Linked DNA regions of Homo sapiens: region 2 is linked to region 1. The links come from fine-mapping of genetic effects on gene expression. A gene starts in region 1. The other region holds a variant in brackets. All regions are shown on one strand. Distances are between the middles of the regions. Region 1 holds the start of EYA2 (EYA transcriptional coactivator and phosphatase 2). Region 2 overlaps EYA2 (EYA transcriptional coactivator and phosphatase 2).

The links. PIP is the estimated chance that this variant, and not a neighbour inherited with it, causes the effect.
Region 2: its variant is fine-mapped to the expression of EYA2 in thyroid (GTEx, PIP 0.98).

The regions. Positions count from the first base shown.
Region 1 is chr20:46,893,257-46,896,164 of GRCh38, forward strand. It overlaps EYA2 (EYA transcriptional coactivator and phosphatase 2), which reads left to right and starts at 1,587. Exons shown (of 16, transcript NM_005244.5): 1 at 1,587-1,731.
Region 2 is chr20:46,963,997-46,966,904 of GRCh38, forward strand. All of the region lies in intron 1 of EYA2 (EYA transcriptional coactivator and phosphatase 2), which reads left to right. Among named protein-coding and RNA genes, the nearest start is that of EYA2-AS1, 64 kb to the left of the region's middle. The variant G/A (reference allele first, on the strand shown) is at 1,760.

The DNA.
Region 1 (2,908 bases):
TGGGGAATCGGAGTGGAAAGACAGCGGTGTCTACGGCCTGCAGCCAAATGTCCAAAGCAAAGGACTTTTGTAAACTTTACATCAACAAGCCACCATCTGAACACTTTTCTAAGTCCCCTTAGAAAGGGGTCCAAGCAAGTCAGGGGCCCAAGAACTTAACCTTCATCAGCTCCTGTAAACTTACAACTGGAATTGAAGACTGTTACGGCTCAAGAGCAACGGCTTTGGAGTCAGCCAGGCCTGAATTTCATTCCTGGCTCAGCCACTTTCTGCCTTCTTTGAGCTTGGACCTGCTCATTTGTGAAATGAGTGTGCTGACAGCAGCTACCTTGGGGTCTCTCTTGGGGATTACATGAGATAAGGAAGAGTTGGGCATTGGATGAGCTTAAGGTTGCAAATAAAAATATAGGACCCCCGGTTACATTGGAATTTCGGAGACAAAAGAAATACTTTTTAAATATAAGTACGTACAACCAATCGCATAAGACATATACTGCAACTGATTCCTCGTTTCTCTGAAATTCAAATTCACCTGGGTGCCCTGTCTTTTACTGCACTTAAGAAATGACAGTGGTTGATATTGCTTTTGGATTGAAGCATCCTGGGTGTCCCACGGTGGAATTCATAGACATTAGAGAGTGGGTGACGGGCTAGGAAAGGCTGCATAGACTCCAATTAACACAGTTCATTGCCAGGGAGACTAAAAGGGGGGTGGCTATGAGAGGATGGAGTAAGTGGGGTGCCTTGATTTGGGCATGTAGGTGGAGGGGGCTATACCTCTCACTTTCACTAAACCAGTTAAGCTCTTGAGACCTCAGTTTCCTTAGCTGTAAAATGGGTGAAACATAGGGGAGACCCCTGAACCGTTCTCACCTAAATACCACACCAATGGCACTTCCTCATAATTCAGATGTCACCTCCTCAGAGAGGTCTTCCCTGACTGCTCTAGCTAAAATTACCGCCTCTCCTCCACTCCCCAACAGCAGATACATATATTATTTTTCTCCCTGTAACTCTAACTTTCTGAAACTGTCTTGCTTCTTTACTTGGTTATTTGTTTATGGTTTGCCTCTCCATGTGAATGCAAGTTCCGGGAGGGCAGAAAACTAGTCTGTCTTGTTCTAGCTGAGTCTCTCAGGAGTGGTACCTGGCACAGTAGATGCTCAATATATTTTGAATGAATGAATGGGTGGTTGAGTGAACGAATGTTAGTGTCACTATTGAGGTCCTCTCCGAGCCGTCGTTCCTTTCACAGGGGTCATGCCTGGGTTGCAGGGAGGATGTGCTGCCCCGGGGAGGGAGGAGGTGCGGGGTGTCGGTGGGTGGGGAGGAGGCTGGGCCCTGGCCTCCAGGACCGGCGAGAGTGAGCGCGCTCTGCTCGGCTGCAGGCTCAGGAAGCGGCGCGGCGGCACGTGCTGGGCCAGAGCCCCGCGCCCTGCGTCCAGCCGCCGGGTGTGTGCGCCCGCGTAGCCCAGCGTCGCGCCTCGGCGCCCCCACGCGCCCACGCAGCGGCGCGGGGACCCGGGCGGGGGCAGAGGGAGGGCCCGGCCCAGGGAGGAGAAGGGGCCGGTCCTCCCGGCGCAGGCAGCAGCCGCGGCAGCCCAGGAGGCGGAGGCAGCGGCAACGGCAGAGACAGCAACGTGCCCGCCGCAGTCAGCCCGGCCTCGTCGGACCCGCACCGGCCCGCCCGCCCGCCCGCACCGCGTCGGGGCGCCCTCTCCACTGCGCGCGGTGAGTACCGCCAGCGGCGCCCACCCCAGGCCGCCCGCCGGGATTCGCCGGGCGGGGGGAGTTGTTCACCGGGACCCCCTCGCCCTGCGCCTCTTTCTGGCACTCGCCAAGCGGGGCCTCCGCAGCTGTCGGGACGTTCTGGGGCGCACGGGCCTCCCAGGGCCAGGAAGGCACAAGGGCAGAGGGGACAGCAGCAGAGCCCCCCTCTGGAAAGGCTCTCCCAGGCTCGGGGCCCCAGTTTCCCCATGCGCTTTGGGGCAACGACCCTGAAGTTTGCTCTCCCGCGCGCGGGACAAGTGCATGGCGCGCAGGCGGTGTAGACGCGGCTGGGTCCTTGGCGTTTTGTTCGATTATGGTCCCGGCGGTTCGCGATAAGGGGCGCTCCCCCAGTCCGCAAACTCAAGCCCTCAGGTAGTGTTTATGGGATAACCAAGAAGCAGAGCCAACCGCTGGAATCCCGGCTTGGGGCTGGAACGGCCCGCTGAGACTTTGCCTTCTAGCTATTGATATATTTCTTTTCAAAAGTCCGTTTGCGCTCGGCCCGCTCTGGTTCAGGTCTGGGGCTTTGAACCGGGGCAGGGAATCCTGGCGCCTGCTGCGGGTAGAGTTGAAACTTAGAAAAGTTTACATCCGAAGGGTGTTTAGAAGGCGGCAAGGATTTCGTTGTAATGGGAGAAAGTGGGAAATGGAATTGTTTTTTAGTCATGAAGTCTGGAGGTTAAACGGCCGTGCTGGCCCAGGCTCCTTCAATATATTCCTGCCTGCCTCCCCCCCAGCAATAAATAGTTTATAAGCTCAAGGAATACTAGGAAAGCGTGACTGGTGAACGTACTCCTATCGCAAAAGACTCAGTGCGCTTTTCTCAGCTGTTGAACTGGAAGCGCCTTTTGCAGTGCGAGGTTCCTGCTTCCCCGAAGCCGAGGCTGAGAGTTGACAGCGTGCACCCTGCCGCGGTCTGAATTCTTTTTAAAAAGCAAGACCGATGCTGCGTTTTTATGGATACCCTTTTCTTTTCTTTCCCCTTCCCCGAAATGCTATGTAATCTTCAATTACTTTTTAAAATATAACGTGGAGGTATAAATCACCCCGGTAAGAGGTACCTTTTAATTACGAGGTGCAGTGGAAGAGCTGAACATTGGAATCTAGCTGTTAGCGAGGGCGGAGGGGCAGGAGGATG
Region 2 (2,908 bases), 71 kb after region 1:
TCAGCGGGTTATGAAATCAATTTGGTGAGCCACAGCCAGCATCGCAGGAAGAAAAGTAATAGAATCGAAAATACCAGAGTGTGTTGCACATGAGGTCAGTGTGGTTTTTTGAAACTTTTATTTGAAGTTTTATAAAGGTGTACACTGCACTGCATTGCAAAACAGGTTTCTTACTGTGAGTCTTGGTTGAAGAATTCGAAAGCCACTGTTTTTAGTCCCTGTGAAAGTTTGGAATTTAGCCCAAGGGGCAGTGGGGAGCAATTAAAGAGGTTTTAGTGGGGGGCATGACAAGGTCAGATGTATGTTTAAAAATCTCACTCCAGGAGTGTGGAGAACAGATTTGGAGGAGGTGGGCAGTGGAGGCTGGGAGGCGTCTTGGCAGGCTGTTGGAGGCAGTCACTGGGGTGTGACAAAGAGAACCAAGTAGCACCTGGCACACAGAGGTCCGCAGGTGGCTGTTGAAGGGATGCACGTGTCTGCAACATGGGAGGATCCTGGGAGGTTGAAAGGCAACATTTCAAGCTTTGCCTCCAACCCCTCCCTGGGATGACCACCTACTTGTCACCTGTCCTGTGACGCAGGTATCCCAGGCATGGCAGATAATAGACTCTGATTTTAACACTTCCTGTTTGCCAGACACTCTGCTAAATGCTTTCAAAACTCATGTAATGCCCTCAGAACAACCCCATTGGTAAGTACTGTTAGGATTCCCGTTTCACAGATGAGGAAACTGAGACCAAGAAAGGATGTTACTTGCCCAAGGTCACAGCGATCATCAAGCTGTGTAGCTGGCACTCCAGCCGGGCAGTGCGGCTCTAGAGTCTGTGTGCCCCAGCATCTGCTGCAGTCATGTGGGAGCCAAGCTGCTTGGGTTTGAATTTAGGGGATAATACACTGAGTACTCTCGTGAGGATTTAGTAAGGGACGGTCAGTGAGTAATACATTCAGGGCAGTAAGGGCCTGGAGCTTAGGACGTGCTAGATAAATGAGAGTGAGTTGTGCCACTAGACGCCCAACTTGTAGAGTTGGATTCAAATTCACGTAACTTGTGAACAGACGGTGGAACTGCCAGGGTTCGAATCCGCCTCTGACACTTAACTGCCTGCATCGCAGGAGTGTGGTACCAGCGCTGGCTCTTGTAATTAGGTGCTCTATGTCCAGTACTTAGAACTGAGCCCGACCTTGGTGAACCCTAAGCATGAGCCATTGATCCCACTGCTCAAGGTCATACAGGAATACAAGGGCCAAGGCTGGAGTTCAAACCCACAGCCAGCTTGCTACTGAGCAACTACAGCCCAGTGTAAAAAGGGCTTTAAACAGTCAAGTTAGGTTTTTCTCTGGCTCTTCGAATCCTTAATCCCTTCTCTCCATGTCTGCCCACCAGCAGTGTTCCCAAGTTAGAGCTTCCAGCCCAGGCAGGCCGCCAGAGTCACCAGGCACCCCAGGGCACAGAGACCCATCCACAGCCTTGGGCAAAGGTGGGGGGTTGGAGGGAAGCCTCTGAGAGAGCTGGAAGGTCCCAGCCCCGCAGTGGCCACCAGGTGCCAGGGCCTGGGCCTCACGCCTCATAGCTCCTGAGTCTGACCTAAGCGTGCCTTCTTCCCAGCGTGCAGAACTGTTTGCCTGGGCGTAGGTTGGAGACAGGTGACCCCACCTGGTTGGTTCAGGCCCACGCTTGTTCAGCCTCCTAGACGCTCTGAGTCTTGGCCTCCTGACTCCTCTGGGGTTGGCGCAGCCTTGCTTGCCTTGGCTCCCGTCC[G/A]CCGGGCTGTTCCCTGCACGTACGAGTGGCCCTTTAGAATGTGTTTGTCTGGTCAAGGTTGACAAACTTCCTGAGCCCACGTCTGTTGACTTTTGTGGGACCTTCTGGCTACCTGGCTGTCGCGGATGCTTCGCTCAAGCCCTGTCTTCTCTCTTGGGGTGTGGAGTCAGCTAAGAGGGCAGCAGAGCTGGCTGTGTTCACGGAATCCAGTGTCTGGAGAGAAAGCTGGTGCCCATGGCGGCTGGGACTGGCAAGTGAAAACTTGAAATTCCATGAATGTAGCACCTGGTGATTCTTTGGAGAACTTTAAAATGCAGCATGAGTATAAACTGTTCTTAACAACCAGGATATGAACGAGGCAACCTCTTACAGTCTTTTTTTCTTTTTCTTTTTTGGGATGGGATATCCCTCTGTTACTCAGGCTGGAGTGCAGTGGTGGCATCATAGCCTTGAGCTCCTGGGTTCACGTGATCCTGCCGCCTCCGCATCCCAAAGTGCTGGGATTACAGGGATGAGCCACTGTGCCCAGCATACCGTTCATTCATTTGTTAATTCAGCAAAATACTATTCATCACATATTCTGTGGCAGGTGCTGTTCTAAGCACAGGGATAGAGCAGGAACAATCTAGCTACAGCCTCTGTTCTCATGGAGCATGTTAAGGTCTCCAGCAACACTGTCCGAGAAAAATATAACATGCTTTACCAGTGTGAGCCACATATGTAACTGCAAATTTTCTAGTAGCCTTGTTAAAAAAAATATGTAAAACAGCAGGCCTGGCGCGGTGGCTCACACCTGTAATCCCAGTACTTTGGGAGGCCGAGGTGGGCGGATCACGAGGTCAGGACATCGAGACCGTCCTGGCTAACACGGTGAAACCCTGTCTCTACTCAAAATACAAAAAAAATTAGCCGGGCATGGTGGTGGGTGCCTGTAGTCCCAGCTACTTAGGAGGCTGAGGCAGGAGAATGGTGTCAACCTGGGAGGCGGACCTTGCAGTGAGTCGGTATCATATTGTGCCACTGCACTCCAGCCTGGGCGACAGAGCGAGACTCCATCTCAAAAAAAAAAACTGTGAAACAGTACATTTTATTTAACTCAAGATGTCAAAAAATATTATCATTTCAATACATCATCCATACTTTTAAGAT